Homo sapiens: one gene and its partners. The protein of the gene in region 1 interacts with the protein of each later gene in a pairwise test. Each region holds a gene or a part of one and is shown on either strand. Other genes may lie near its edges.

What was found.
Region 2: the proteins of KPNA6 (region 1) and ANP32B interact in binary tests that used the Homo sapiens proteins (3 or more experiments, as listed by UniProt).
Region 3: the proteins of KPNA6 (region 1) and RNMT interact in binary tests that used the Homo sapiens proteins (3 or more experiments, as listed by UniProt).
Region 4: the proteins of KPNA6 (region 1) and NMNAT1 interact in binary tests that used the Homo sapiens proteins (3 or more experiments, as listed by UniProt).

What each region holds. Positions count from the first base shown.
Region 1 is NC_000001.11:32,102,700-32,111,055, reverse strand, and holds the start of KPNA6 (importin subunit alpha-7), read right to left. Parts: upstream 3,001-8,356; 5' UTR 2,926-3,000; coding exon 2,922-2,925; intron 1-2,921. UniProt on the Homo sapiens protein: Functions in nuclear protein import as an adapter protein for nuclear receptor KPNB1. Binds specifically and directly to substrates containing either a simple or bipartite NLS motif.
Region 2 is NC_000009.12:97,978,334-97,986,797, reverse strand, and holds the start of ANP32B (acidic leucine-rich nuclear phosphoprotein 32 family member B), read right to left. Parts: upstream 3,458-8,464; 5' UTR 3,243-3,457; coding exon 3,189-3,242; intron 1,363-3,188; exon of another isoform or gene 1,277-1,362; intron 153-1,276; exon of another isoform or gene 1-152. UniProt on the Homo sapiens protein: Multifunctional protein that is involved in the regulation of many processes including cell proliferation, apoptosis, cell cycle progression or transcription.
Region 3 is NC_000018.10:13,736,461-13,743,960, reverse strand, and holds part of RNMT (mRNA cap guanine-N(7) methyltransferase), read right to left. Parts: intron 6,952-7,500; coding exon 6,826-6,951; intron 3,795-6,825; coding exon 3,682-3,794; intron 2,452-3,681; coding exon 2,270-2,451; intron 1,474-2,269; coding exon 1,309-1,473; intron 1-1,308. UniProt on the Homo sapiens protein: Catalytic subunit of the mRNA-capping methyltransferase RNMT:RAMAC complex that methylates the N7 position of the added guanosine to the 5'-cap structure of mRNAs. Binds RNA containing 5'-terminal GpppC.
Region 4 is NC_000001.11:9,974,363-9,981,862, reverse strand, and holds part of NMNAT1 (nicotinamide/nicotinic acid mononucleotide adenylyltransferase 1), read right to left. Parts: intron 6,272-7,500; coding exon 6,088-6,271; intron 833-6,087; coding exon 693-832; intron 608-692; coding exon of another isoform or gene 564-607; exon of another isoform or gene 97-563; intron 1-96.

The DNA of each region.
Region 1 (8,356 bases):
ACTAAGAAAGGCCTATCAGTCTTATTACTCAATAGGGAAACCTGGAAACCAGAGTGCTTAAGGGAAAGGAACATTATTGAAAGTGGAAAAGAATCTGTTCTGATATTCATGGAGCCCTTTAGGCTCCAAACACTGTTATCTGTTTTTTGTTTGTTTATTTGTTTGTTTTTGAGAGGGAGTCTAGCTTGTTGCCCAGGCTGGCATGATCTCGGCTCACTGCAACCTCCGCCTCCCGGGTTCAAGCAATTCTCCCTTCTCAGCCTCCCAAGTAGCTGGGATTACAGGAGCACGCCACCATACCCAGCTAATTTTTGTATTTTTAGTAGAGACAGGGTTTCACCTTATTGGTCAGGTTGGTGTCGTCCTCCTGACCTCAGGTGATCCACCCGCCTCGGCCTATGGGATTATAGGCCTGAGCCACCTTGCCCAGCCCAAATGCTGTTATCTTATTTAGTCCCCAAATATCTTGATAACACAGCCCCACCCCTTCTTTCTAGAGGTCAGAAAAGGAAGGCTCAGAAAGGAAGAAAAACATTATTGTGGACTGTGCTAGATGCTTTCCATATGTGTTGTTGTGTCTGACATTTAAGTGACTTCCAATACCAGATCTGATTCTACAGTCATTGCCTTGAAGCTCAAGTGAATAATTTCTGCTTCCTTAGAATCTCAGATCTTTAAAAATCCAATTCCAGGCCAGGCGCGGTGGCTCATGCCTGTAATCCCAGCACTTTGGGAGGCCGAGACGGGCAGATCACCAGAGGTCAGGAGTTCGAGACCAGCTTGGCCAACATGGTGAAACCCTGTCTCTACTAAAAATACAAAAATTAGCTAGGTGTGGTGGTGGATGCCTGTAATCCCAGCTACTCAGGAGGCTGAGGCAGGAAAATTGCTTTAACCCGGGAGGCAGAGGTTGCAGTGAGCCGAGATCTGGCCACTGCACTCCAGCATGGGAGACAAGAGTGAAATTTCTTCTCAGAAAAAAAAAAAAAAAAAAAAAAATTCAATTCCAGATTCTCATTTTGCTTGCCCCACACACAATAATTAGAGTTATCAATTCACTCTGGACTCCTTCAGTTTCGTTCAGAAAAAGGATTTCAAAGTGGCCGGGCATGGTGGCTCACGCTTGTAATCTCAGCACTTTGGAAGGCGAGGCGGGAGGATCACGAGGTCAGGAGATCAAGACCATCCTGGCTAACACGGTGAAACCCCGTCTCCACTAAAAATACAAAAAAATACAAAAAAAATTATCCAGGCGTGGTGGCGGGCACCTGTAGTCCCAACTACTCGGGAGGCTGAGGCAGGAGAATGGCGTGAACCCGGGAAGGTGGTAGTTGCAGTGAGCCGAGATCGCGCCAATGCACTCCAGCCTGGGCAACAGAGCCAGACTCCGTCTCAAAAAAAAAAAAAAGATTTCATAATGGGCCCACATGCAAAAACAAAAAGCAAAACAAAACAAAATAAACAAACAGAAAACCCAAACACATTTACAACTTTGCCTAGGGTTAAAAGCTTTTTTCCCCTTTTCTCCCTGCCCAACCACTAGAGGGCCAGGTCATTTAAAAAAAAAAACAAAACAAAAAAACAGGCTGGACGCAGTGGCTCACACCTGTAATCCCAGCACTTTGGGAGGCCGAGGCAGGCGAATCACTTGAGGTCAGGGGTTCGAGACCAGCCTGGCCAACATGACGAAACCCTGTCTCTACCAAAAACACACAAAAATCAGCCGGGCGTGGTGGTGGGTGCCTGTAATCCCAGCTACTCGGGAGGCTGAGGCAGGAGAATCGCTTGAACCCGGGAGGCAGGAGGTTGCAGTGAGCCGAGATCGCGTCACTGCACTCCAGCCTGGGCGACAGAGCAAGACTCTATCAACAACAACAACAAACAGCAGTTACAAACTAGGCTTGGGAGTGTTCACCCTGGCTTAGCCACTGCATGACCTTGGGTAAGTTACTTTACCTCTCTAAAGCTCAGCTTCCACATCTGTAAAATGGCAATGGTAGCATCTATTTCCTTAGGTTGTACAAATTAAGTAAAACAAGACATGTAAAGCAATCAGAACAATGCCCGTACGTAGAAAGAGCTTAGCAAATTTCACAATTTTTACTGCTTTAGAGGAATTACCACTGTTGGTTCTGTCTCTAAATCCAAAGACTTCGCCATGGTATTCTCTCTGAACAGAGGCCTTGCCAGCCGGAGTCCCCTCAGAAAGATCAACAGGTCGCTCCTTTTCTCCTTACCAGGGCCAGCCCAGAAACCTAAAGTCCTCAACCTAAAGATGGCCAAGAGGACTTGGCCTTTGGTGTTCTACCATCACAAGCGATGCCACTCTGAGCCCAACCGAACCACACTATTTCCGCCTTGATTCCGTTCTCCCGGCCTTCAGCGGCGCAAGCTGCCCTCGGCCTGGCTGCCCATGCTTACCGGCCTAGTGCTGGCTCGCCTGACGTCCCCTCACTAGAGGACTCCACCTCGCTACGTAGGTAGGACTTCCCTGAGTTCAGGGGAGCCACTGAATCTAGTCAAGACACGCGTTGGCCAAACACAACCCAGGAGAAAGCTACCTTAGCGCCGCCCAGGCCTGCCGCCGGGAGCCCGTCCCCCAGCCCCAGTCTGGGCGCAGGACAGAGAGTAGGCCCCTTTCTACCTCCCAGGAACACGTGGGCTCCTGCCCGAGGCCACCATGTGGGGGGCTCCAGGCGTGCCAAGGTGTCCCCGAAACCAGCACCAAAGGACTGCTTCCAGCACGGGCCCTAGCTCGGCCCAAAACTGGCAAGAGGGGCACTCCCGGCCTGACTTTTCCCCTCAGACCTAGCTAGAGGGGATGCAGACATCTTCCGCAGACCGGAGACAGGCTCTCGCCAAATCCCAGGCCCCGACACTCCCTGAGCCCAAGAACCCTACTGCGTGGTTTCCTCACTCACCCATCGCGGGTCCGCTCGCTCACTCTTGGCGGCGGAGGCAACGGCGGCAGCTTCAGCGGCAGCTTTCAGTAGACAATATGGCGGATCTGTAGGACGGCAGCCCGAAAGGGACAAACCAGTTAACTCCAGGACGAAACGCTTTATTGGCCCAATCGCCTATCATTACACCGAAAGTGCGCACTTAAAGAGACCGCAGCTACTAAAGGTGGGGAGTGGAAATGAAATAGGAAAGGAGTGGTTGGGAGGAGACTGGAAGGGATACCTAAGAAAGTTAAGTGTGTCTAGGAGTTCCCAGCTGTTTCTGCTACTATTTCTTTTTTATAGTGAGATTTCTTTACCCGGAACTTTTTCTCCCAGAAGCTTATCCCTCCTTTTTTTTTTTTTTTTTTTTTTTTTTTTTTTGAGACGCAGTCTCGCTCTTGTCCCCCCAGGCTGGAGTGCGATGGCGCGATCTCGGCTCACTGCACACTCTGCCTCCCGAGTTCAAGCGATTCTCCTGCCTCGGCCCCCCGAGTAGCTGGGATTACAGGCGCCTGCCACCACGCCTGGCTAATTTTTGTATTTTTACTAGAGACGGTGTTTCAACCATGTTGGCTAGGCTGGTCTTGAACTCCTTACCTCAGGTGATCCGCCCGCCCCCAAAGTGCTGGGATTACAGGCTTGAGCCACCGCTCCGGGCCAGTTTATCCCTTCTTCTAATAGTTGAAACCAATCGGCTGGGCGCTGTGGCTCACGCCTGTAATCCCAGCACTTTGGGTAGGCCGAGGCGGGCGGATCACCTGAGATCAGGAGTTCGAGACCAGCCTGCCCATGGTCTCTACTAAAAATACAAAAATTAGCTGGGTGTGGTGGCGCATGCCTGTAATCTACTTGGGAGGCTGAGGCAGGAGAATTGCTTTAACCCGGGAGGCAGAGGTTGCAGTGAGCCGAGATTGTGCCACTGCATTCCAGCCTGGGAGACAAGAGCAAAACTCCGTCTCTAAAAACAAAAACAGCAATCATAGACCTTGGGCTGAATATGAACAACGAATCATCTAGAGAGGGGAAGTGCCTTGCTCAATGAGGCTATGGAGAGAAGGAAACAAAGAAGTAAGACTAAACTCAGGTTTTCTGATTAGGCCTACGTAGGTAGCCCTAGTTGAGGTTGCAATCTTATTGGGAGATGAGAAATAGAAAAATAGGGCTGGGTGTGGTGGTTCACGCTTGTCTATAATCCTAACACTTTGGGAAGCTGAGGCCAGAGAATCACTTGAGGCCAGGAGCTCAAGACCAGACTGGGCAACACAGTGAGACCCCATCTCCACAAAAAATAAATTAAAAGAAAAAAATTAGCCAGGCATGGTAATGAGCACTTGTACTTGGGCGGCTGAGGCGAGAGGATCACTTGAGTCCGGGAGGTCAAGGCTGCAGTGCCATGACTGTGTCACTATACTCCAGGTTGGGTGATAGAGTGAGACCCTGTCTCTAAAAAAAAAAAAAAGAGAGAGAGAGAGAGAGAAAGAAATGGGCTGGACATGGTGGCTCATTCCTGTAATCCCAGCATTTTAGGAGGCTGAGGCGGCAGATTGCTTGAGCCCAAGAGTTCGAGACCAGCCTGGGCAACATAGCAAGATCCCCCGTCTCTAAAAAAAAAAAAGAAAAACAATGAGACCCATGCAGTATAGTTAACAGAGTGATTTCATAATCATTTCATTTATCCTCACAGCAAGCTCCTTGAAGGCAGGGGTGGGTTCTATATTGTTTACCACCGTATCTCCAGCACCTAGCACAGAATCTGGCACATTGTGTGTGCTCCATAAATAACTATTGAATGAATAAACAAAGGAATGAACAAAAAATTGAGTTACACAGAGCAAGGGACATGATCTCCCCTTTTAGAGATGAGGAAATTGAGGCTTTTATTGTTCATATGCCTTTTCAATCACGGGACGTATGGCTAGTACATATCAGGCCTTTCTTTTTCCATGACATGGCAGCCCTCCTGTCCCCCACCTCGACACACAGAGCCAGGCTATATCTTCAAGACACAGAGGGATCTATCTTCTGGAAGCAGAACAAGGGCCTGTCACAACAAACTGCCAACTTTAGTTGTGCGCCTGGCCCATTTTCTTGAGGCAAAGAAATCAAAAGGAAAACTCTAGGATGAAGGTCAGGAAGGGGCGCACTTTATTTCCCTTCCTACTGCCCCTGCTTAAGGTGAGACCTCATCACTTTGCCCTGTTCTGTTTTGCCTGCCTCCTCTCTGGCCTCCTGCCTCCAGACTCTCCGGCTCCCACCCACTATCTCCTGAAAAGCAGAGACCTATAATCTCAGCTACTGGGAAGGCTGAGGTGGGAGAATTGCTTGAGCCCAGGAGTTCAAGACCAGCCTGGGCAACACAGAGAAACCTGTCTCATTAAAAAAAAAAAAAAAAAAGAAAAAAAAAAAGAAAAAAAAAAGCAGAAACCTTACAGTGTAACTCTTCTGCTTAGCAACTTCCTACTGCCTGCCCTTAGGTAATGCCCAGACATTTTAATCTGGCACAGACTGGTCCTTACCTGCTTCTTGGGACACTCCCCACCAGGCAATGCAGGCTCCAACCATATTTGGAGAACCACTTTTCTTCAAATATGCGCCTGTCTTCTCATGTGCCTTTGCATATGCTGTTCCCTCTGCTTAGAATGCAGTGCCCTCCTTTCCCCACTTAACCATGAGAACTACTCACTTTTTTTTTTTTTTTTTGAGACAGAGTTTTGCTCTTGTTGTCCAGGCTGGAGTGCAATGGCATGATCTTGGCTCATTGCAAACTTCACCTCCCAGGTTCAAGCAACTCTCCTGCCTTAGCCTCCTGACTAGCTGGGATTACAGGCATGCGCCACCACACCCGGCTAATTTTTTGTTGTTGGGTTTTTTTTGGTGTTTTGGTTTTTTTTTTTTTTTTGAGACAGAGTCTAGCTCTGTCGCCCAGGCTGGAGTAAAGGGGCGTGATCTCGGCTCACTGCAACCTCTGCCTCCTGGGTTCAAGCGATTCTCCTGCCTCAGTCTCCCGAGTAGCTGGGATTACAGGTGCCTGCCACCACACCCAGCTAATTTTTGTATTTTTAGTACAGACAGGGTTTCACTGTGTTGGCCAAGCTGGTCTCGAACTCCTGACCTCGTGATCCACCCGCCTCGGCCTCCCAAAGTGCTGGGATTACAAGCATGAGCCATGGCACCCAGCCTAATTTTTGTATTTTTAGTAGAGACGGGATTTTGCCATGTTGGCCAGGCTGGTGTTGAACTCCTGACCTCAGGTGATCCACCCGCCCCAGCCTCCCAAAGTGCTGGGATTACAGGCGTTAGCCACCGCGCCTGACTCTGAGAACTACTCGCTTTCAAGACTGAACTCAGCTATCAGCTCTTTGGGGAAGCCTGTCTTTCCAGATAGGGCACCTGTCCTCTCTGCTACTACAGGAAGAAATGGACACTAATTTTCCTTAGCATTTCACACCCAAATTTGCTCACAATGTGTGTCTCTCTCTCCTTGTCTATGGAAGGAACAGTATCTTCCTTATCTTTGTAACCATCCCAGTGTTCAGCACGGTGTCTGCCTCAGTAGAGGCACCAAAAATATTTGTTGAGGTGTGTGTCTCCCATATAGCATTGTGAGCTCGTCTGCATACCTTATGGCGAAGAAGGGCTCAGGGAACGTGGGCTGAATAGATGAGAATGGCTGAGTGTCCATGTTTCCTCTCCTTTCAGCCTGAACCCTCCATCCTATGCCCATAGGAGGCAGTGACCTACAAGCAGCTGTTTCTACTCTAGCACATGACCCTGCTCATACACCTTTGCTAGCCTAGGACTATTGGTCCTCCCTGATCCAGCCTCTGTTGACTTTTCCCATTCCACTTTTTTTTTAAATCATTCCTGCTCTAAGATCCACATTCTGTTTACCTTCCCCGAAACACACCAGGATGTTCCAAATCTATGTGCTACTGCATGTGCACTATTACATTTGCCTGCTTCTCTAACTGAAACACCCTTTTCCTCTCTTGTTCACCTAGGAAGTGGCTAATACAATTCAGACTATCCCCTCCTCCAAAAAGCCCAGAGAACATTAAGCATTCTCTCCCCTCTGCTCTGTTGTACCTTGTAACTGTTGGGCTCATCCCAGTGTAGTATTACTTGCTTGTTCCAGTGTCTTGGCATCCTCACCATCTACCATAATACCCAGCAAGGAGGGTCCCAGTGACTGCATGCTGAGATAATCAAGAAATCACATTCTGCCAGGATAGTAGTGTCATCTTTCAGAGGTTTTTTATTTTTATTTTTGAGACAGAGTTCTGCTCTTGTTGCCCAGGCTGGATCTTGGCTCAGTCTTGGCACTGCAAGATTGCAGTGGTGGGATCTTGGCTCACTGCAACCTCTGCCTCCTGGGTTCAAGCAATTCTCCTGCCTCAGCCTCCCGAGTAGCTGGGATTATAGGCATGCGCCACCCGCCATGGCTGGCTAATTTTGTATTTTTAGTAGACAGGGTTTCTCCATGTTCGTCAGACTGGTCTCAAACTCCTGACCTCAGGTGATCCACCTGCCTCGGCCTCCCAAAGTGTTGGGATTACAGGTGTGAGCCATGGCGCCCGGCCTTATTTTATTTTTTTTGAGACAGCATCTTGCTCTGTCACCCAGGCTGGAGTGTAATGGCGCGATCTCAGCTCACTGCAACCCCTGCCTCCAGGTTCAAGCGATTCTCGTGGCTCAGCCTTCCAAGTAGCTGGGACTACCGACATGCGCCACCACACCTGGCTAATTTTTATATTTTTAGTAGAGATGGGGTTTTGCCATCTTGGCCAGGCTGGTCTCGAACTCCTGGCTTTCAGTGATCTGCCCACCTCGGCCTCCCAAAGTGCTGGGATTACAGGCTTGAGCCACTGTGCCCGGCCTTTCAGAGGTTTTATGTCCAGCTCTACCACTTCCTAGCTGTGTTACTACGGGCAAGTCACTATAACTCTCTGAGCTCCAGTTCTTCATCCATTGGAGTGATAGCACTTTCCTCCTAGGGTTGTCATAAAAGTTAGATTAAGGCAAGGCCTGAAATACACACAGAGCAGCATCTGGCACACAGTGAGCATTCAGTTCGCAGTAGCTATCACTGCTCCCGTGGCCTCCAGTGCCTTCTCATCTCCTCTCTACTGAAGAAGGCAGTACCCACAGAGGCTTCAGAAGCCACATGTTGGGGCTTCCTAAACCAGAATCCCACACCTCTGTAATAGGTCTCACACACACGAAGGAAAAGAACCACAGGACACAGGCTTGTTGGGAGTATAAAAATAGGACTTTTTTCCTTATCACATCAATTATCAAAGAAACAGTACGTAACAAAAATACAAAGCTCTGGTGGATTTTTTTGTCTTTTGTCCCCCCCACCACCACTTCTACCCAACAGCCCCTTGCCAGGGAGCCCTTGGCTGAAGCCTGGA
Region 2 (8,464 bases), on another chromosome or scaffold:
CAACAGTATACCTTCAACAAGGGAAACGATTCTTCATGTTACCCCACACGACAAGTCTGCAGGATCCCAGAGGCCAAGCCTACTGTGTAACAGCTGACAATGCCATCAATTTCTGTGGTGTTTATGGCATGTTCCAGCACATCACACATAAGGTATCATGTGACTAGCTGAATGTGATTTTAAGAGAGTGATCTCCAAACTTTTCATTTGCCTTAAGGATGACGCCTCTGTGCGAAAACACTTTAAACTCTCTTTTAGAATTTCCTTCAAAATCTACAGCATTTTTTCCTGAAAAACCCTTCACTTTTAGGTCAAAGTTTTATTCGCCCAACTGGGTACCTAACTCCCACTGGTCTCAGTCTCCCTAAGGGAACCTTCCTCTACCCCCACAATCTTAGCTGGCTCCCACAACACTCTCTCAAGGCCTCATCAACTCTCCCAAGTGCAAAAAGCACCACACCACCTCAATGGTTTCTCAGGCTTAAAATGTTTACTTAATAAACCAGTGGATTCTGCAGGCCAGTGCTGCCTAACGCAGCACCCACGAGCCACTTGTCACGTCTGAGCACTTGAAATGTGGATAGTATTACAGAGAAAATGTTTTAATTTAACTGAATTAAATGGCTCTGGCCTGACTGGCAAGAAGGTTAAGCTGATTACTTGAAAAATGAACTGGTGGCCGGGGGCGGTGGCTCACGCCTGTAATCCCAGCACTTTGGGAGGCCGAGGCGGGTGGATCACCCGAGGTCAGGAGTTGGAGACCAGCCTGAACAACAGGGAGAAACCCCGCCTCTACTAAAAATACAAAATTAGCCGAGCATGGTGGCGCATGCCTGTAATCCCAGCTACGCGGGAGGTTGAGGCAGGAGAATCGCTTGAACCCGGTAAGCGGAGGCTGAGGTGAGCCGAGATAGTGCCATTGCACTCCAGCCTGGGCAAGAGAGAGACTCAGTCTCAAAAAAAAAAGAAAAACAGAAAAAAGAAAAATGAACACCTGTAGATATACATGTGTTTTTAAAGCAATATTACTTCATATATGAAAACATCCTCTAAGGGGAACAGCAGACCAACTGTGTTTCCCAGAGGGAACACTACTCTTGAGAATTTTAAAAGACCTTTAGTTTGAGCATATCCTAAAGAATTCAAATTCTAGATTTTAACGCATTTCTGAAGACCCACGTGTGTACTTCTCTTGCGGGCACTTTGGCTAATTTTAGCTACTCCATATTCTACGGATTTGCAATTACGCCGCAATGGAAAAGTCTGGAATAAACACCTTCTCAAGCCAAGAAAGCCTCTCAAGTTTTGAGGCGCGAGCTGGGCGATAGGCTAGCACGTGGCGGGCACAAAATGTCTGACGGAAGGTCGGAAGAACGCACGCCCGCGACCCTCCATCTCGCAACCCCCGGAGCGGCCCACCCTCGCGGGCCCTCCGGGAAGGACAGCGCCGTGCGGTGGAGCCCGGCCCGCCCCGCGTTAGTGGTGACCTCAAAGACTAGAGAGCAAGGATTTAAAATGTCGAGCACACCAGGTAAACCCTGGTCGACGAATTCCCACAAGTTCGCGACTTGTTAACCACAGCCACCTGAGGGCACGAAACCTGGCCGCTCGCTTAGCCCAGAGCGGGTCGGGAGGCCCCGCGGGGCCGCCCTCCGCGGGAAAGCCACTGGCCCGCTGGGGCACCCGGCCGCGGCGCTAACTGGCCCGCGCCGGTCCGCGGCGGGGGGGGGGCTCGCGACGGCGGGCAGCCGCGCTAAACCCGGGAGACGAATGGGGCAATTCCCACAGGTCGGACCCACGCCCACGCAGCCGCGCCGCAAGAGGGCCGCCCTCAGGCCCCTACAGCCCGCAAGGCGCGCGGCCGACCGCACCAGGCCGCTCTCAAGCACGTGGGAGGCCAGAGGCCGCCCGGCCCACGAGCCGAGCCGAAGCCCGCCCAAAATCCCGCGCGCCCGGCGCGGGGCGGGGGCGGCCGCCTGCCGTTGCCCTTTTAAGAAGGGGGAGGGGGTCGGCAGCGCGCCCGCGACGGGATGAGTCGGCGGCGGCCGCGGCGCGCGGCTCCCGCCAGTGGGAGCCAAGCCCCGGCGGGGCGGGGGGAAACAGACCGAGGGCTCGGCGCGGGAAGAGGCGGCCGCCAGCCAGCGCCGAGGGCGGGCGGGCAAGGCCAAGCTCGTGGGCCGGCTCACCAGGCGCAGGGAGACGGGCACCCGCCAACATGGCGCTGCGGCGGCCTGTGGCGCGCCCCGGCTGGCGTGAAGAGCCGCCGCCCGCCCACACGGAGGGGCCAGCCTCCCGGGGCAAGGGCAGGGGCCCCGGGCGCCGCCGCCGCGGCACAGGGGGAAGGGCGAGGCCGTCGCCACAACGGTTGGCCTTGGTCGACCCGGGCTGCCCCTGGGAGGCAGGAGTGGGCAAGGCCGAGGGCGAAGAGGGAGCGAGAGAACGGGGGAGAAAGTTTTATTTTTGGGCTTGAAAAATGGCGGGAACCACGTCCTTTTTTCAAACTTGGCCTCGGGAGGGGCGGCGGTTGCGCCACCTCCGCCGCCCTGGCCCGCCCCTCCCCCGCTCCGCGCGCCGGGCCGCGCCCGCCCAGGCCTCCAGGCGCCCGAGGGGGCTTCTCGCTCCCTTCAAAAGAAAAAAGCCCCCTCCTCGCCCCACGACTGCTGACCTCGGCCGGGCCGGCGCCCACGGCGAGCTCCGGCCACAAGAGCCCCCGTCCCGCCCCACCCGCGCCCCTTCCCCGGCCGGCCCGGGGCGCGCGGAGCCCGGCCTGGCCCAGGCGGGGATGGCCGCGCAGCTCCTCGGCAGGCCGGGCCTCCGCCCGGCCGCGCATCCCGGGAGGCTGCAAACATGGCTCCCAGCGTTACACAACCCCCGCCTCCCTCTCTCGCCGCCGGCCACTTGCACACGCGCTCCCTCAGGGGAAAGACCCCGGCGGGCGAAGCGCTCAAAGTTTGCTTTCCCCCACACCGCTGCCTCCCCCCGGCCGCCCCAGGGGCCCGCGGGCGGCAAAGAGTTAATCCTCGCGCGCTCGCTCCCCCCTCCGCGCCCGCCCGCCTTCCCCGTCCGAGCCCACGAGCTGCGCTCTTCCCCGCGCCGGGGCCGGCGAACCCTCAGCCCGGGCCCCGCAGGTGGCCACCATTACATGCAAGTCATCGGGGGAGAGGGCACCCAGAGGGGTCTCTGCTTACAGCTGCCGGGGTCCGGTTCCTCAGCTCCAGGTGGATCCTCCTCTTCATGTCCATGTTCCCCTCTTCCCCCCTCTTCAAACTTAACTTTCCGCGGCGGGGGCGGAGGGGGGAGAGGCGTCCCGGCTTGCGCAGCGAGGGCCGTCGGAAGGGTTTGCTAGCGGCGGAGGCCGGCGGCGCGGTCCTGGGTGGCGGGCGGCGTGCGGGCAGGCGAGCGGAGCCCCCGGAGCCAAGTTACTCACGGGAGCGGAGAGAAACCATGGAGGGAAAAGGGGGCTGGAGCGCAGCGCTGGGCTCACTACCGCCGCCCCCGGCCGCGGCCTGCACTGCGCTTAAACCGGCGACGCGGCGCGGCAGCTGCTCGGCTCCACTCGGCCCCGCGCGGCGCTGCTCGGCTCGGCGGCCGCGGCTGCACCAAGGCGGGGCGGGGAGACTCGCGGCGGGCGGGGCGGAGGCTGGGGAAAGGCGCAGCCCGAATAGAGGAGCGACTTCCTCCCTCTCTCCGATTGCACGTGGGGCGGCTGATGTAAGACCTTTCTCGTGGGTGGGGGGGCTTCCCCGCCCCCCGGCCCCCGCCGCGCTGAGACTCCTTCTACCTCCGGCCCCACGTCGTCGCGCCCGGAGCTGGGCTTGCGGCCCGGGCTGGGAGGTTCGCGGGAAGGGTTGGTGGGAAGCTTTGCAGTCCGGCTGCGGGGGTCCCTAAAACCCAGTCCATCCGGGGAGGCTCACGGGGGCGGCCCGACGCCCGCGGAGGCGCGAGATGTGAAGAAGCCGGGGACAGGCTTTGACGTTCACCTTTTGCCTGCCACACAGTCTGGGGCCAACAGGCCGAACCCCGCTGCCTCCTTGGCAGACTGGCGTCCGTAGTGCCGCCGAGGATCCCCCCCGTCGGGACGGAATCGCGGCCGACCGGCCCTGGCAGGGCAGCTGGGGTCGCTTGCTAAGCCACAGAGCAGCCGAGCATCCCCACCCTGTTCAGGAGAGTCTCCCTCGGTTTTCTAACATTTTAATAGGAGCTAGAGAAGGAAACGATTAGCATTTCTAATAGGGCCTCAGGGTTTCCCCGCAGACTTTTTTTTTTAATCTCATTTATTCCTTAGGGCACCCCTGTGAAGTGTGTAAATTCTTGGTGGTCTAAGTTTCGCTGAAACCTGGCAGGCAGCCTTTGTCATGGTCTGGCCCAAAGGGTCCCAGGGGTTAGAGCACCAGATCGGGATGAGTGTTGTGCTTTGCAGAACACCGGGGAATGACGTTATATTCAGCGTACAATAAGTAAATACATAATGTGTCAAATCAAATACAATCTAAGAAGATCGTACTGACAAGAAGCACCAAAAACTAAGAACAATTTGTTAAAGAAAAACTTGAAATTCTATGTATTAACATGAAGTTTTATGGAAGTTAAGAAAGTGCCCCCTTTCCTATTTTACCTAAGTTTTAGTGGCAAACAACCCAAATTTAGTTGTAAACCAATTATATATCAGCTTTTAAAATACTGAGTGAGTTAACATTTGAAGATGAAAGTTTTAGAAGGAATATGGGAAAAGAAAAACTTTCTGGTAGTAGTTCCCTGACTCCGTTTGTAGTCTCAGCAGACGTCTTTATGACAAGGGAAAATGGAGACAGATGTTCTCAGGGTTACAAAAGGTCTGTAACTAAGGTTATGAGAACCACAGGGCTATGCAATGAGGGCTTTTACCAAACAAAACAAAACAAAACAAAAAATCGGTTTCATGAGCCAACAAGCGATTATTGAGGATCTGCTTTAAGGGGCTTGATATTATTTCTCTAATTCTCAGACAACTTTCTGAAGTAGGTGATAATTTAATCATTTTACAGATGAGGAGCTCAGGAATCTTAAGCTGCACGTCCAGCAAGAAGCAGAGCTAGGATTTACACCCAGATAGGTCTGACTCCACAGCCCACCATCTTGTGCTACATCATCAGTCTGGCTAGAGTGGAGTCATAGCATGGTGGGGGGCTACTTTGGTGCTGTAGGTTGGGAACAGTTGCAGAGGGCTTTTAATACCAAACAGCATGCAAGTGTCCTCGTGCAGGAAAAGGGGGGATGGTGCTGAAGGAGTCTTAAACGTGGTAGCTCTGTGCTAGAGAGTGGTAACCTGATGGCTCCCGGAGGAGGTGGTATTAATCCTTAGCATCAGGGCAAATCTTGAGACTCTGTCCTCTCTTTATGGCCAACTGGAGGGTATGAAGGACTCTTTCCCTAGGGTACATAGCTCACAGGATAGATGTGTGTTTTATAGTATTAAGCCACAAAGTAATTAATAAACATAGCCACAATGTGCTGCAAATAGAAGGCAAAAGAGCCAAAGGAGGAGAGACTACAGACACGGCACTGTCCGTTCTTACGCAGCCGGTGCTGGCATGCACCTCTGTGAACAAAGAGCATGTGTTCCAGTGACATGCTTCTTTGTCAGGGGCTTCACTGCCAGAGGCATAAATAACACAGGCAGAGCAGGGTGTGTCTCATTGCCCTGCCAACATCTTCTACGGGACTGTCAGTCTACAGGCCTGAAGGGGCTGTTGTCACAGCGCCTGGGTTTTGAATATTGCTGCTCTTAACATCATTCTCTGCATCTGTGTGTGAGAAAGATGTAGAATATTCAATTATATCTAATCTGCAAGTATTATCATGTCCATGGATTTATGGATTTCAACAAGGGCTGAAAGGGAATAAGGAAATGTAAAAACAGTTTGTTAGACCAAACTAAGAATGAACTTCTTTTTACTTCCATTGATGTTAACGTTTGACCAGTAAGTAATAAAAATATCAAATAATGCCAGGTTTTGGCACCCCTTGAGCCTTAAAACTGCCTGTTAATCAGAATGGCTATGTATTCCAAAAAGCTCTAAAATGTCTGAGCGGAACACTCCGAGCCAGTTTGTAACTCCTTGGACCTGTGCCCCACCCCGCTGCCTCAGCAACAGCATGTTACTTGTCATGTCATCATATGACTTGAGCCTTCCCCACAAACTTTGTGGCTGTGGACAGACTTTAATAAATCTGAAGATGAGAGGAAACAGCCCTACTAGGTCATTGATTTAACTAGCTCTGAAACCAGCTTAACAGAATGGGCACATTTTAGTAACGACAGTATATGAAGCTGATATATAATATAGAGTGAGGAAATGATTACTCTTTAAATACTTCCATTCTTCCCGTCCTCTTCTACACGCATGTGCATACACTGGTAAGAACATATCTCTTCCCCAGCCCGGAGTTTCCACAACTTAGTGTGTGTACCTCTATTATTGCAGTTCGGCAACAAATGGTAGTTATTGAAGGATCTAACTTCTCAATTAGAACTCAGAGAAGTATTTCTGGATGATAGGAATGGAGAGGAGGACCTGGGGTCCATCTTTAGAACATAGCAGATGCTTTGCAAATGTATGTTATGTTGAAAATAGTGTCACATGTACTAAAAAATACCATCTAGGCAGCTGAGATTATTGAGACAAGGGGAGAGGGAGAGGCAAATAGGTGAAAATGGGTTAAGGGAGGAGATCCTGTTAGTCTCCACATGGTAAAAACAGAGGAGGGGAATGTGTCAGGTGTACAGGAAGCTCTAGGCCCAGTAACGGGCCCCTGCCCAGGTTCCTTTCTGCTTTCTGAACCAGCTGGAGGTGCTATGCCTTCCTGGTGCAGCAGGGAAGAGCTATGACTACCAAGAGTCAGGTCTAATATTTATTAAGCACCATCCTTATGCCAAGTGCTATGCATGGGACTTTTGTGTACACTGCTTCTCAGTTAATCCTAGCAACAGCTCCCCGGGCAGGACGATAATCCACCTTTTTTTAGTATTTAGGAAACAGACTCAGCAAAGCCAAGTAGGTTTGCTGAAATTCATATAACTACTAAGAAGCTAGATTTCTCTTGTCATTAAGGGCTCACTGTAATTCATTCTCATTACTTTGATCGACTAGTCCTCACAACTGCTTCTGAAAAAAAAAACATTTTTTTCCTGTTTTAAAAAGGTTTACTTGCTCATTGTGCAGAAAAAATTTAAAAATAGAAAATAAATTTAAAAGTTCCTGCCATTGAGATATAACCACCATTAAGTTGTATATCCTTGCAATTTTTTTCTGTACTATACATATTGTTTTTCAGTGTTGGGATCAGATTGAAGATTTTTTTTAGAAACTTGCTTTTTCCACCTATCATTATGATAAATCTGTATTAATATAACTTTCTTCAGTGGTTTTCCCTTTTAGAAGGACTTCAGTGAGATGAGAATCCCACTCTACCACTTACTGGCTGTGTGCTTTAGGGCAAAACATATAGCCTCTCTGGGCCTCAGGCTGCTCATCTCAGAACTTTTGAGGGTTGGACATAATTACATTAGAGAAGCTGAGTGCCTTTCACTTTTCTCTGCACCCCAGCCACAGTCACTGCAAGCCTGAGTCCCTTCCTTACCCAAGCAGCATCCCAGAGCCTGCCAGCCTCTTCCAAGGCTAGGAACATTCTGCTGTTTCCATCTCTGCTCCATGTGCTACCCCTTTGGCTAAGGGGGAAATATGTTTTTAAATCTCAAATAGTCAGGCTCATTTTCTGCTTCACACAGTCCTTGTTCTCTCTTGAGGAACTTGGAACATGCTCCTGAGCTACACTGGAAAATATCGAAGTGCCCTTCTCCATAATTAGCCAGCATCCCTGCCATCTGGACCCTCTCATACCTCACAGGGATTTCCTTGTCCACATGGAACTGAGACTGATCCAAGAGTCCAGCTCCTGCTGACTGAACTCTGCCATCTGTTCCGAAGCTTGCCTTACCTGCTCCTGTCCAACCAGGCACCCCTCTGTGGGCCTGTGCTTTAGTCCTTTTTCACTCTAGACCCTGGTACTACTGAGGTGGCTTGCGTGGTCCTAAATTTGCTAGTCTCTTATTTTGATAAAGGCTGCAAGTAGCAAATATCCTTATCCTTGAAAATAAGGGCATCTAGGCCCCTGGCTTCTTTTTATGTTTATTTATGCATGTACTATAGAAAACTTGGAAACCATACTTACAGAGAAGAAAATAAGAATTTCCATCCAAGGCTTTTTTAAAGGGCCAAGCACTGTTCATGTTTTGTTGTCTATTCCTCCAGTCTTTTCTCTACACACATATGGCATTTTCTCAAGTCTCAGATAGTGAGAAGCATCATCTCATTAGTAAGACCTTTTCAGGAGGGAGGGAGGGGGAACCCACAACATCAAATATTCATGTCAATTTTAAGAGATATTTCACATATAGAAGTGAAAAAGTATAATACCTAGGAAA
Region 3 (7,500 bases), on another chromosome or scaffold:
TAAAAGGAAAATGTAATTGATATTTTTAAATTTTGTAAATGGTTTATATTTATAAAATTATGCACAGTATTTTCCTCATGTTCAGTCACAATGCTACTTGGCTTTCTTATATTATTGAATAAGCTATTATAGAACTCCTGAAAATACTGTAACCCTAATTTTACAGACTGACTGAGTTACAATTAAAATAAGCACCAAGCAGAAGTAAGCAGACAATATACCTCTTCTTTTTCTCAGTTAATATTCAAAACAAAAGATTTTTGTTTCTAAAAAGTAGAAAATCAAGTTCAATCAATCATGACATGGCCTACATTTAAGCTGACTTTTATACTCTCCCCACCGGGGAAACTCTGGAAACCAAGGTGTATCACAAGGCCTTGAAGCCTTACCTGGTAAGGCCCAGTTACCCCCAGCTTTTCCTGTGTCTACAGTTTGCCAGGACTCCTAGGAATTCAGGCACATGGGAGAATACATTCCTGAATCAGGATTTTATCATCAACATTGCCTGTGAGACATAGGCAATTTCAAAGTTATAGTGAAATGCAAACAACTTTTAATACTCATCTCTGTCAAAAGGAGGATCTTTGATTTATTTATTTATTTATTTATTTATTTATTTATTTATTTATTTTTTTTTTGAGACGGAGTTTCGCTCTGTCGCCCAGGCTGGAGCGCAGTGGCGCGATCTCGACTCACTGCAAGCTCCGCCTCCCGGGTTCATGCCATTCTCCTGCCTCAGCCTCCCGAGTAGCTGGGACTACAGGCGCGCGCCACCATGCCCAGCTAATTTTTGTATTTTTAGTAGAGACGGGGTTTCACCGTGTCAGCCAGGATGGTCTCGATCTCCTGACCTCATGATCCGCCCGTCTCGGCCTCCCAAAGTGCTGGGATTACAGGCGTGAGCCACCGCGCCCGGCCGGATCTTTGATTTATGAAGACTCATTGTTTATCATCAAAGTTACCAGTAGTCACTAAAAAAAAAAAAAAAACTTTTGCTATTTGCAGTGTCAGGCATTTTGTGCCACAAGCTGAAGGCAACTGGTTCCCTTTTTCACCCACAGGATTAAAAAATTCCAGGAATGAGAGAAAACTAAGTTAGGCTATTATGAGACCTATGGCAATAATCCCCTAGATGTGAAGCTAGTCTTGTTTTGTTTTTTTTTTTTAAAAACACAAAAACAAAAAAACAAGATTATACTTTTTCTTTAGCCCTCATTTAAAATAAAGAGTAAAATAAATATTGCTTTTCCCCGCTTTTCTTTCCCTTAAGACAAAAAGAAAAGAGTGAACAGATTAATGACTTCTTACTCATTTAGCAATGGAAAATAGACCAAGAATTCAGGAACATCCACAACACCTTCCAAGTTGAAGTCATATTTGCAGCCAAATAAAGGATAATCTCCTTTCTTCTGAAATTTCACAGTATATATTTCATTTCCAAATGATTCTGTTTCTGAAGCTTCAAGGCGTCTTCTATCAAGGTTATCCCCCAACCAAAATAAAAAGATTAAAATTGTGATTAGTGTAGACTTATTTTGATCAGATTATGCATGTGAAAAACTACATGATGCACACTTGATTAGCCTTTTAATTATATCTGGGCTACCTTTTTTTTTTTTTTTTAAAGTGACAAGGTCTTAATCTGTCATTCAGGCTGGAGTGTGGTGGTGTGATCATAGCTCACTACAGCCACCAACTCCTGGGCTCAAGTGATCCTCCTGCCTCAGCCTCCTGAGCAAGGACTACAGGGGCGTGCCACCATGCTGGCTAATTTGTAAATTTTTTGTAAAGACAAGGTCTCACTATGTTGTCCAGGCTGGTCTCAAACTCCTGGCCTCAAGCAATCCTCCTGCCTTGGCCTCCCAAAGTGCTAGGATTATAGGCATGAGCCACTGCACTCTCCTGATTTGAGCTACTTTTAAGAAGCAATATACTAAAAGATCACCAACAGTCACACCAATAAAATTAAGCTGGAAGTAGGTATCACTCTCATGACAGCTGGTTCATCTCTGTGCCTGTGTATCTGACCTGCAGTTTGTCTATCACTATAACTTCAGTCTCTAACTTACACACAAAGATGAACTGTTAAAAGTTCACCTGTAAATTTGTCTATTGAATTTAAATTTTGAATGTCTACTCAAATATCTTATGAAAGTGTTCAACACTTATAAGATTAAAATAGCGTATTTTAATAAAATCTACCTCTGATAAACATTTGCTACTTAATACTGAATATTTTATAAACCACAATATATTTAGAAGTACTTACATCAATTCAAAGCTATTGGGAGTAGTACCAATAAAATAGCCCCCAGGGCTAAGTCTCTCACACGCATTTCTCAGCATCATGTCAGCCTGCTCATAAGACTCAAATGAGTAATGACAGACAAACTGACAACTGCAGATGTCAAAACACATTTGTGGGTCACGAAATTTGTCAATCAGAAGTTCCTGAAACAAATTAAAATGAGTTAAGATTGTGAGGTAACTACAACAAAGATTAAAAACTTTTTAGTAAATTAACTTCTAGAATGTAAGGTTCTTCCTTTCCCTCACAATCTTTCCCTTGTACAATAAAGGACACACAGAAATCATGCATGTATTCTAGTTTAACAGAATAATTTGATTCCCACTTTCACAGTATTTAAAAACTGAGGAATTCTGAAATCATGTTTAAAATATATTAGTCAATTATGACATTTCAACTTGATCCTTTCATCACTTTACTTGACAGCTAAAATAAAATGACATTCAACAATAACTTGAGTTAAAAAACATCTGGCGTTTGGCATTTTTTAAAAAATGCAAAAATGTTTTAAAGGTATTACAACTTTCTGGCAGTATACTCCCACTTATCTTTTTCACTTTCAAATTTCAAACAAAATGTGTATGATTAAAGGTATCTATAACAGTTCAGTGAGTCAATAAGTCAATGAAGAACAAAAAGTTCATGGTGAGACTTTCACCCTTGAAGCAGTTCTTTTTAAGAAATTCAGAAACAGGTGGAAGGTAGGAAAAAACCAAACAGGCTCTGATATGTTGGGAAACTAATAAATTACAAGGTGAACAAAACATAGTATAAGTTCAGTTCTATTTCAAAATACTGGAAAATAAATGATGTCCATACCGAAAAGCAACAGCTAATTTCAATTCAAATTATTAAAAGCAAAAAATTACAAGTATTCAGTGAGTCATTCAAGGGAATTTATCATAATAGAATTTCCAGTCAAAAGTGAAAATGCATATTCCAAGATTTTTAAAGTTTCAAAACACATTTTAAAAAATGAGTAGCCGGGCACCATGGCTCATGCCTGTAATCCCAGCACTATGGGAGGCAGGCAGATCACCTGGGCTCAGGAGTTTGAGGCCAGCCTTGGCAACATGGCAAAACCCCATCTTTACAAAATATATAAAAATTAGCTGGGTGTGGTGGCATGTGCCTGTAGTCCCAGCTACTCAGGAGGCTGGGAGGCAGGAGAATCACTTGAGCCTGGGAGGCAGAGGTTGCAGTAAGCTGAGATCGTGCCACTGTGCTCCAGCCTAGGTGACAGAGTAAGACCCTGTCTCAAAAAATAAGAGTAAATTTTTTTAAAAAAGTAAAAATTGAGTTGATTTTTAAAACAAATTATTTACCCAAACTAAAAATGTAAAAAATAAATTGACCAAAGAAAGAAACTGTACCTTTGAGCTGTCAGCAGTTATAAATTCTGCACTGAAAATATATTCACTATCACGACGATTTTTCATGTCCTCATACCGCTGCTGACACTGTTTGACAGAAACATCGGCAATATCTGGAAGGATGGAAGGGTATTAGTAAGTATCAACACAGAATGCCAGAAATCTAGACATTGATCTCAACTGACAAACTCTGGCATAAAAGTCAGCCTTAGTACCAGTGAAAAGGTTTTATTTCCTTTAAAAGAAAAGAAAAGGGCTTTGTTCCGACGCAAATACCCTATCAGTTTTCAAGAGGAACTAAAAGCGTCTCAATAGGTACGGACGCTATAAAAGTTCTATCATGATTTTTAAATGCTTATTCAAAGTAAAAAGGAGAAAGTTTTATTCCAATCTGAATTATAAAACCTAACACTATCAATAAGCCCAGTTTTGGAAATACCAAGGGTATATTTTTATAATAAAATGTTATTAGCCCTTTTCTTTTTTTCTTTTTTGAGACAGAGTCTTGCTGTATTGCCCAGGCTGGAGTGCAGTGGTGCAATCTTCACTCACTGCAACCTCTGCCTCCAGGGTTCAAGTGATTCTCATACCTCAGCCTCCCGAGTAGCTAGGATTATAGGTTGTGTGCCACCATGCCCAGCTAATTTTTTGTATTTTTGGTAGAGGATGGGGTTTCACCACATTGGCCAGGCTGGTCTCTAACTTCTGGCCTCAAGTGATCCACCCTCCTTTGCTTCCCAAAGTGCTGGGGATTATAGGCATGAACCACTGTGCCCAGCCTGCCCTTTTCCCTGTTTAAAGATTCACACTGATAATGCAAAGGCAATGGGATCTTATCACAAATACAAAGTAGCAGCACTAAATGGTACTGGCAGTACTTCATGTATTCTTCACCACTATACAATATGCAGGGGGAGAAAAACAGTTTCATTTAAGAATACCCTTTATAAAATAGTGAAAATTAATTTTATTAAACCTGGGCTTTTGAATACACACTTTTTAAAATGTTGTGTGATGAAATGGGAAGTAACAAAACATTTCTGCTACCTAACAAAGTATGATGGTCATCTTCAAGAACAGTACTGATATGACTGTTCTGAGTTTTGAGCTGTACTGGCCACTTTTTTTCTGAGAAAATTATTTTGACTTGAATGACTGACAAACTACGGTTATGCAGACTTCAGTACCTGGCACATATTTTCTTGAAAATGAACAAAGTGAACCTGTCACTTAAAGTTCCCCAACCCTTGGGCGACAAACCAGTACAGGTCCACGGCCTGTTAGGAACCAGGCTGCACAGCAGGAGGTGAGTGGCAGGCAAGCTAGGTTGCATACTCCTTATGAGAATCTAACACCTGATGATCTGAGGTAGAATTCCATCCCCCCGCTTCTGTGGAAAAACAGTCTTCCATGAAACCGGCCCCTGGTGCCAAAAAGGTTAGGGATCGCTAATTTAAAGGGAGACAAGGGACAGTGTATTTGTTGCCAAAAATAAAATTGACTTTCAAATAAGAATTACAACCCTGAAAAACTCGTATTGATCACTGTGGGCTGGACTTCTTCCCAATACTTTTCTGATTGGCAGTGATATTAAACACGTGATTTTTTGATTCTCAACAATTAGATCTGCATAACTTTAGTGAACAGTATTTTCCAAGTACTATAAAATCATGCAGGAAGTGCAAGACAGATTAATGGATTTTAATGTTACACGGTATAAAAAGTTCATCACTAAGGTTTCAGATTCCATATTGTAACTACTCTTTAAGAAACTACCACTTACTGAGTTTTGATGTAGTAACAGAGGAATATCTACAATTATCAAAAAAGGCTATTAAAATACTTCTTTATTTTACAACTACTTATCAACCAAAATAAAATCACAACATATTGGATGCAGAAACAGGTGTGAGAATCCAGTTGTCTCCTGCAATTTCAAACTCTAAAGGGATTTACAAAAATGTAAAAGCCAGCCTTGTTACTTTTAATGAACTAAAAAATATTTTCAAAATTCTCAGCTTTAATTTCCAATATAGTAAATATCAGTAGCTACTTACCATAATTACATACAAAAAAGCTTTCTGGGGTCCTCAATAATTTTTAAGTATACAGGGCTCATAAAACCAAAAAATCTGAGAACTGCTAATTTGGGCAGTACTTCAGTAGTGGGGGTATGTATCTCTTTTAACTCACCACATCAGAAAGACGCTGACGTCTGCTTGTCCCACTTCAGTGTTAAGACTAACCACCGGGCTAAGGTGATTGATTGATTGATTCATTGCGTTACTATCGACTTTTCCCTTAATGGCTTCCGTAGCAAAAAAAAAAAATTATTGCCTAGATCTATTATTTCATAAAGAATGAAAAAAATTATGATTTTCTAATTCTATAATTCCTCTTTATCTGATTGAAAAAAAAAAGGAACTGCCCTTTTCAACCATCTGATTACAAATGTTTGATTTCCTCCCCTTAATTTATAAGTTTCAGAATAGTTTCTTAGCAACCTTCAAGGGTGAACAATGTGTTTTTCTGATTTGATGTGTCCAACTGCTATTTTTTTTTTAATGTTAAAATTGCCCTATTTTTGCCAATGGAAACCTTTTCAAGTCTGCCCTTTAGACATGACTCCGACCATCTTTGATAGCTTCCTTCCTTTTGGGAAGGAAACGTTATCCCAGGCTTATTAATCTTACTATGAAACTATCAGGAAAGTCTTGTAACTAATTTTTTTTTTTTCGAGACGGAGTCTTGCTCTGTCACTCAGGCTGGTGTGCAGTGGTGCGATCTTGTCTTACTATAACCTTCACCTCCCAGGTAAAAGTGATTCTCCTGCCTCAGCTTCCTGAGTAGCTGAGATTACAGGTGTGCACCACCATGCCCAGCTAATTTTCTGTATTTTTAGTAGAGACAGGGTTTCACAATGTTGGCCAGGCCGGTCTCAAACTCCTGACCTCAAGTGATCCACCCACCTCAGCCTTCCAAAATGTTGGATTACAGGCATGAGCCACCGCGTCAGGCCGTAATTAATTTAAAAAAAACCCATCTCATGCATAGTCCCAGATATCTTGCAATTTGAGACAATCCTTCTTATTTTCCATTTATCTGACTACAAATTATTCTTTCCCATATCATTATTTATCTTACCAGTACAAACTAGCTTGTTAATTCTTCCTTTTTTCCATTTCAGCAAATCTCCACCTTTACCACATCCCAGGTCCAAAACAGTGATATCACGTTTTTTCTTCTGTCGTACCTTTTCCAAAAATTCTCCTAAAAGAGAGAAATCAGTCACAATAAACTACCTCTTCTTCAATTTTACTGAAGTATAAACTGTTACCTCTAATAACCTACTATCTTTTGCCCAATATGTAACATAAACTATTACACATCCATTTATGTAATTTGTAACTTCTGATAAGTAACTAAAAATATGACTAAGAGTTGATTAATCTGATCCTCTATCATTAAAGAGTACGTGTCTGGTGTTTTGGAAAATAAAGGCAGCATTTTGAATGTTAACTTTCAAAAATGAATTTTAAATAGCAGATATTTAAAATTCTAATATAAGACAACACAACACTTGTTCAGGATGAGAGAAAAAGCTAAGTAAGGATTAGAAAAACTAATTATTCATATTTTTTTTTGTAGCTTTCTCTTTCCATAGCTAGGTGTTTAACAGTAGACACGTAAGTAAATCAAAGTTGTTATGGAATGATAAAAGAGCCTGATTATCAAAGATGTCAGGCTTACCACCAAGAGAAATATAAAAACTAGAAAAAAAAAAAGCACTATGTCTTTTAGTTTTAGCATCATCAGTAT
Region 4 (7,500 bases), about 22 Mb from region 1:
ACAGTTCACAGTTTTTATGAGCTTTTATTTTATGAGAATCAGATTCCCAAAAGAGACCCAGGACACCTCAAAGATTAGAGACCACTGCAGGAGAAATAAGCTCCAAGTGCCTTTTATTCTCCTTCACTTCATGCAACTAACAAGGGGCATTTTCCAGACACCCACAAGTATGCAATATAAAATGAAAATAAAGGCCAGGCATAGTGGCTGACACCTGTAATCCTAACACTTTGGGAGGCCAAGGCAGGAGGACTGCTTGGGGCCAGGAGTTCAAGACCAACCTGGCCAAAATAGTGAGACCCCATCTCTATAAAACAAAAAAAATAAGGCCCAGGCGCTGTGGCTCACGCCTGTAATCCCAGCACTTTGGGAGGCCGAGGTGGGCGGATCATGAGGTCAGGAGATCAAGACCATCCTGGCTAACATGGTGCAACCCCGTCTCTACTAAAAATACAAACAAATTAGACAGGCGTGGTGGCAGGCACCTGTAGTCCCAGCTGCTCAGGAGGCTGAGGCAGGAGAATGGCATGAACCCAGGAGGCAGAGCTTGCAGTGAGCTGAGATCATGCCACTGCACTCCAGCCTGGGTGATAGAGCGAGACTCCATCTAAAAAAAAAAAAATACACAGGGGTTTGCTCAGCTACAGAATCTTATCAACTCTAGTCCGTGGGTCCTGCTAAAACATACAAACCTTTTGTTTTTGGCTCTAGGGATTTCTTTTGACTAGAATCTTGTGTTTCAGTCCACTTCCTCTTCCTTCCAGGCCTTTCTAGAGTAGGTGAGTTCTGCTGGTGATCACAGTCACTAGCCTCCAATTTCTCTTGATGGTGTCTATAAAACAACAAAACAATAGAATATTTCTCTTTCTCACATGCTCCATTAGAATATATCATTAACATTATTTATAGCTGGGCACAGTGGCTCACACCTGTAATCCCAGCACTTTGGGAGGCCGAGGTGGGCGGATCACGAGGTCAGAAGATCGAGACCATCCTGGCTAACACGGTGAAACCCCGTCTCTACTAAAAATACAAAAAATTAGCCGGGTGTGGTGGCGGGCACCTGTAATCCCAGCTACTCGGGAGGCTGAGGCAGGAGAATCACTTGAACCTGGGAGGCAGAGGTTGCAGTGAGCCAAGACCGCACCACTGCACTCCAACCTGGGCGACAGAGTGAGACTCCATCTCAAAAAAAGAAAAAAAAAAGAATATCATTAACATTATTTATTTATTTATTATTTTGAGATGGTGTCTTGCTCTGACGCCCAGGCTGAGTGCAGTGTGTGATCTCAGCTCACTGTAACCTCTGGCTCCTGGGTTCAAACAATTCTCTTGCCTCAGCCTCCCGAGCAGCTGGGATTACAGGGGCGCACCACCACGCTCAGCCAATTTTTTTTTGTATTTTTAGTAGTGACGGGGTTTCATCATGTTGGCCAGGCTGGTCTTGAACTTCTGACCTCAAGCGATCTGCCCGCCTCAGCCTCCCAAAGTGCTGGGATTATAGGTGCCTGGCCAACATTATTTATCATATGCCACACATTACACTGAATCCTTTACATGGATTATCTGATTAAGTCTTCTCAACATAAGATGACTGTTGTGGAAGACTAAAAAAAATTAAAAATCTTCTCGACTGGGCGTGGTGGCTCACACCTGTAATCCCAGCACTTTGGGAGGCCAAGGCGGGTGGATCACCTGAGGTCAGGAGTTCGAGACACAGCCTGACCAACATGGAGAAACCCTGTCTCTGCTAAAAATAGAAAATTAGCCGGGTGTGGTGGCACATGCCTATAATCCCAGCTACTCGGGAGGCTGAGGCAGGAGAATCGCTTGAACCCAGGAGGTGGAGGTTGCAGTGAGCCATGATTGCGCTATTGCACTCCAGCCTGGGCAACAAGAGCAAAACTCCGCCTCAAAAGAAAAAAAAAATCTTCTCAACATCCTATATCATAAATATTATTATCTCCGTAAGGGAAGGAGAAAGGAGGCTTACAGTTGCTACTCCAGCTCCTAGCAGAGTCTATGAGGAGGCATTCAATAACAATTTTTTTTTTTTTTTTTGAGATGGAGTCTCACTCTGTCGCCCAGGCTGGAGTGCAGTGGCACGATCTCAGCTCACTGCAACCTCCGTCTCCTAGGTTCACGCCATTCTCCTGCTTCAGCCTCCCGAGTAGCTGGGACTACAGGCGCCCACCACCACGCCCGGCTAATTTTTTCTGTATTTTTAGTAGAGACAGGGTTTCACCATGTTAGCCAGGATGGTCTCGATCTCCTGACCTTGTGATCTGCCCGCCTAGGCCTCCCAAAGTGCTGGGATTACAGGCGTGAGCCACTGCGCCCAGCCTCAATAACAATTTGATTGAGTGAATGTTTTGGGGTTTTTTTGGTTTGTTTTTCAGAGACACAGGCTCACTCTATTGCCCAGGATGGAGCACAGTGGCACAATCATAGCTCGCTGCAACCAAAACTCCTGGGCTCAAGTGATCCTACCGCCTCAGCCTCCCAGATAGCTGCGACTACAGGCACGTGCCACCATGTTCAGCTAACTTTAGTTTTTTGGAGAGATGAGGTCTCACTATGTTGCCCACACTGGTCTTGAACTCCTGGCCTCAAGCAATCCTCCTGCCTCAGACTCCCAAAGTGCTGGGACTATAGATGTGAGCCACCATGATCAGCCTGAACATTTTGGTTATTACAAAGCGACTATATTACTGCCACCTTGCAGCTAGTTTCACTGAAAATACTTCTGGTTTTAATGTGCTGCTCATCTCTCATATCAGAATTGTTTATTACCCCATTGACAGAGGACACTGACTAATTTGCCTAAGGTCATTTAACTTAAAAGTATTAATAGCAGAGCCAGGACTTGAACCCCAGCAGTCTGGTCCAGAGCCCACACTCTTGACCATGGAAGAGTGTGGCTTAATCTTGTGACAAAGAACCAGAACGCCAAGGAGAAGGTCCTAGAGCGGCAAGGGCCTGAGGCCTTAAAGGAAGGGGCCCTAAGCAGGATTTGTGTATAGCTCTATTCTGGGCTGGCAGCAGGGTGCCCACTGTTTTCAAACTGTGCAATGTTACCCAAATAACATCAACTACACTTGTGGGATCCAACTGTGGGCCTTTATTCCCCTACATCCCAACCCTTCTGAGCAGCTGAGTTGACTATTTAATGGGCAATAAGGTTACTATAAAGCCAGAGGGTCGGGTAGGGCTGTGGCCCAGGAACTTGCTCCCTCATGGGAGAATTTTTTGCCATCAAGCAGTGGAGACTCTTCTCCCTGCCAAGTCTGAAAAGGAAGTCCTCTTGAGAGATCACTGTGTGAGATACTTCCTACTGACTCAGTGCCCAATCCTGCCCAACACACTTCCCAGAGGTCCTTGCAGCAGGCTGTGGACTTGACTGCGATTTCTGCTAATGAGATTCTCTCCTGAGAGATTTGGAAGGCAGAAGGAGGACAGAGGCCATCATCCTGGGACTGTGGAGCCTGACAAGTAATCTTTTTTTTTGAGACGGAGTCTCACTCTGTCACCCAGGCTGGAGTGCAGTGGCGCAATCTCGGCTCACTGCAACCTCCACCTCCCGGGTTCAAGGGATTCTCCCACCTCAGCCTCCCAAGTAGCTGGGACTATAGGCATGTGCCACCACGCCTGGCTAATTTTTGTATTTTTAGTAGAGACGGGGTTTGCCATGTTGGCCAGGGTGGTCTCGATCTCCTGACCTCAGGTGATCCACCCACCTCGGCCTCCCAAAGTGCTGGGATTACAGGTGTGAGCCACCATGCCCGGCCTGATCCTATTATTGCGCTATTTATAGCCAGTAATCCTTTCTAGTGTGGGTGTGGTGGCTAGACGCTGGAGTCCACTGTCCGTCACCAACTTCAGGAGACTGAGACAGTTCAATAGCAGCAGAAGCGGAATTGGTTTGTTGAACTCTGACGGCAACATCGGAGGAGTGACCCTGACTTCCACTTCTCCAGCCCTTTTACTTTTTTTTGTTGTTGTTTTTTGAGACAGTCTCATTCTGCTGCCCAGGCTGGAGTGCAGTGGCACAATTTCAGTTCACCGTAACCTCTGCCTCCCAGGCTCAGGCAATTCTCCTGCCTCAGCCTCCCTAGTAGCTGGGATTACAGGTATGGGCCCAGCTAATTTTGTATTTTTAGTAGAGACAGGGTTTCACCATGTTGGCCAGGCTTGTCTTGAACTACTGGACTCAGGTGATCTGCCGGCCTCAGCCTCCCAAAGTGCTGGGATTATAGTCATGAGCTACCACGCCCGGCCTCAGCTCTTTTAAGTACTTTTTGCCTAAGTACTTAAATCTCTTTCCACTTAAAATATCCAGAGTGGGTTTCTATTTCCTAGTCTGAACCCTAAATGATACAGTCAGTCACTGGAAAGTTCAGAACTCTAAGAACAGATACTAAACAGAAAGGCTTTTCAGAAAGCCCTTTCATTTTAAACTCAAGATAACAACAGGCCAGGCATGGTAGCTCACATTTGTAATCCCAGCACTTTGGGAGGCCTAGGTGGGAGGATTGCTTGAGGCCAGGAGTTTGAGATCAGTCAGCATAGGCAACATAGCGAGGCCCCATCTCCAACAAAAAAAAGAAAATAAAGTTTAAAAAAATCAAAATAACATTAAGAGATAATTAGGTGTCAGCCAGGTGCGGTGGCTCACCTCTGTAATCCCCGCACTTTGGGAGGCCCGAGATGGGCAGATCACCTGAGGTCAGGAGTTCAAGACCAGCCTGGCCAACAGGGTGAAACCCCAGCTCTACTAAAAATACAAAAATTAGCCGGGCGTGGTGGCAGGCGCCTGTAATCCCAGCTACTTGGGAGGCTGAGGCAGGGGAACGGCTTGAACCCGGGAGGCAGAGGTTGCAGTGAGCCAAGATCATGCCATTGCACTCCAGCTTGGGCAACAAGAGTGAACCTCTATCTCAAAAAAAAAAAGAAAAGAAAAGAAATAATTAGGTGTTGGGAGGCTGAGACAGGTGGATCACCTGAGGTCAGAAGTTCAAGACCAGCCTGGCCAACAAGGTAGAACCCCATCTCTACTAAAAATACAAAAACATTAGCGGGGCGTGGTGGCAGTCACCTGTAGTCCCAGCTACTTGGGAGGCTGAGGCAGGAGAATTGCTTGAACCCAGGAGGCAGAGGTCGCAGTGAGCCGAGAATGCACCACTGCACTCCAGCCTGGGTGACAGAGCGAGACTCCGTCTCAAAAAGAAAAAAAAAAAAGAGAAATAATTAGATGTCACTTACTCTGGTTTTTGAACCCTTAACTAGAACTGCTTCAAAGGTATGGGCACAGAGATCTGTGACTCCCTGCCCAGATGCTGTCATGGAAGCAGCACACGAATCAGGCCTGTCCATGATCAAGCAGCACTGGATGCTTCTCTTCCTTAAATTATCTGCCTGTCTCTTTTATACTTAGGAAGACTGATGATAATAACATCTTCTTGCAATTTTCCCTTTCTCATTTGGGGCACAGAAAGCCCAGGCAGGCTTCCTCTATTTTCTAACAGTGGTATCACATAGTAGCAAGCAAGCAAACATCTTTTTTTTTTTTTTTTTTTGAGATGGAGTCTCGCTCTGTCACCCAGGCTGGAGTGCAGTGGCACAATCTTGGCTCACTGTAACCTCCATCCCCGGGGTTCAAGTGTATCTCCTGCCTCAGCCTCCCAAGTAGCTGGGATTACAGGCATGCGCCACCATGCCCGGCTAATTTTTGTATTTTTAGTAGAGACGGGTTTTCACCATGTTGGCCAGGCTGGTCTCGAACTCCTGACCTCAGCTGATCCACCCGCCTCAGCCTCCCAAAGTGCTGGCATTACAGGCGTGAGCCACCGCGCCTGGCCGCAAACAACTTAAAACATAATGAAAGACACAGAGGGGCTAAGGAAGACCCATCCTTTGGTGCTGTGCTCTACAGTCTTGTAGTAACCTTCCACAGGAATGGCTTACAACACACGTGACAGTTTTGCAAATCTGTATGTTCACAGATGTAAGCAACATTGAAACATGGTAAAAACATAAGCCGCTTAGCCATTTACACAGAACTGACAAAGTTGATTACACCATAAATACCTTAGCACCTTCAGAGTCTCTTTCCACTCCTTCTGAAGACTTTCCCATGTATCAACTTCCACCCATTTAGAATTCTTGGTAGCAAGTTCTGCCATGATGACCCGGTGATAGGCAGGAATGAGTCCTTTCTTCTTGTAGGCATCACCAACAGGAGAGATGATGCCTTTGACAACTGTGTACCTTCCTAGATAAAAAGTTAGGTTTCACACTAGGTATAACAAATTAGACTTTATGCACAGGAAATATTACGATCAATATTATTTGTTTTGTTTTGTTTTTTGAGACAGAGTCTTGCTCTGTTCCCCAGGCCGCACTGGAGTGATCTCGGCTCACTGCAACCTCCGCCTCCTGGGTTGAAGCAATTCTCCTGAGTCAGACTCCTGAGTAGCTGGGATTACGGGCGCATGCCACCATGCTGGTTAATTTTTGTATTTTTAGTAGAGATGGGGTTTTTACCATGTTAGCCAAGCTGGTCTCCAACTCCTGACCTCAAGTGATCTGCCTGCCTCAGCCTCCCAAAGTGCTGGGACTACAGGCATGAGTCACCACACCTGGCCAATATTGTTTTATAATCACAGATTCTCTTTCTTTAGGGATTCCAGCTTATTAGCTGATCAATTAACTGACTGAAATTATGGTAAAATATACCCAAGCGTACAGTTCTATGATATTAACTGCAAACATGCTGTTGTGCAACCATCGCTCCTATCTATCTCCAGAATTTTCTCATCTTCCCCAACTGACACTCTGTACTTCACCTCATTCCCCTATACAGTTAAATTTCTATTGATATTGCCAAATTACTTTGTAAAAAGCCTTAATTTGTATTGTCCACCTAGATGTATGCAAAAGCCCATTTCTCAATGTCATAGGCAAATAGTGAGCTTTAGCATCCATCCATCCATCTACCTATCAGCATATTATATGATCATTTATGTAACAAAAAAATCGAGGCCAGGTGTGGTGGCTCACACCTGTTATCCCAGTGTTTTGGGAGACCAAGGCAGGAGAATCACTTGAGCCCAGGAGCTCAACACCAACATGGGCAAAACAGTGGGACCCAGTTTCTACAAAAAATTAAAAAATTAGGCCAGGCGCGGTGGCTCACTCCTGTAATCCCAGCACTTTGGGAGTTCGAGGCGGGTGGATCACGAGGTCAGGAGATCAAGACCATCCTGGCTAACACGGTGAAACCCTGTCTCTACTAAAAATACAAAAAATTAGCCAGGCATGGTGGCGGGCACCTGTAATCCCAGCTACTCCGGAGGCTGAGGCAGGAGAATGGTGTGAGCCTGGGAGGCGGAGTTTGCAGTGAGCTGAGATCATGCCACTGCACTCCAGCCTGAGCGACAGAGCAAGACTCTGTCTCCAAAAAAAAAAAAAAATTAGCCAGATGTGGTGGCATGCCTGTAG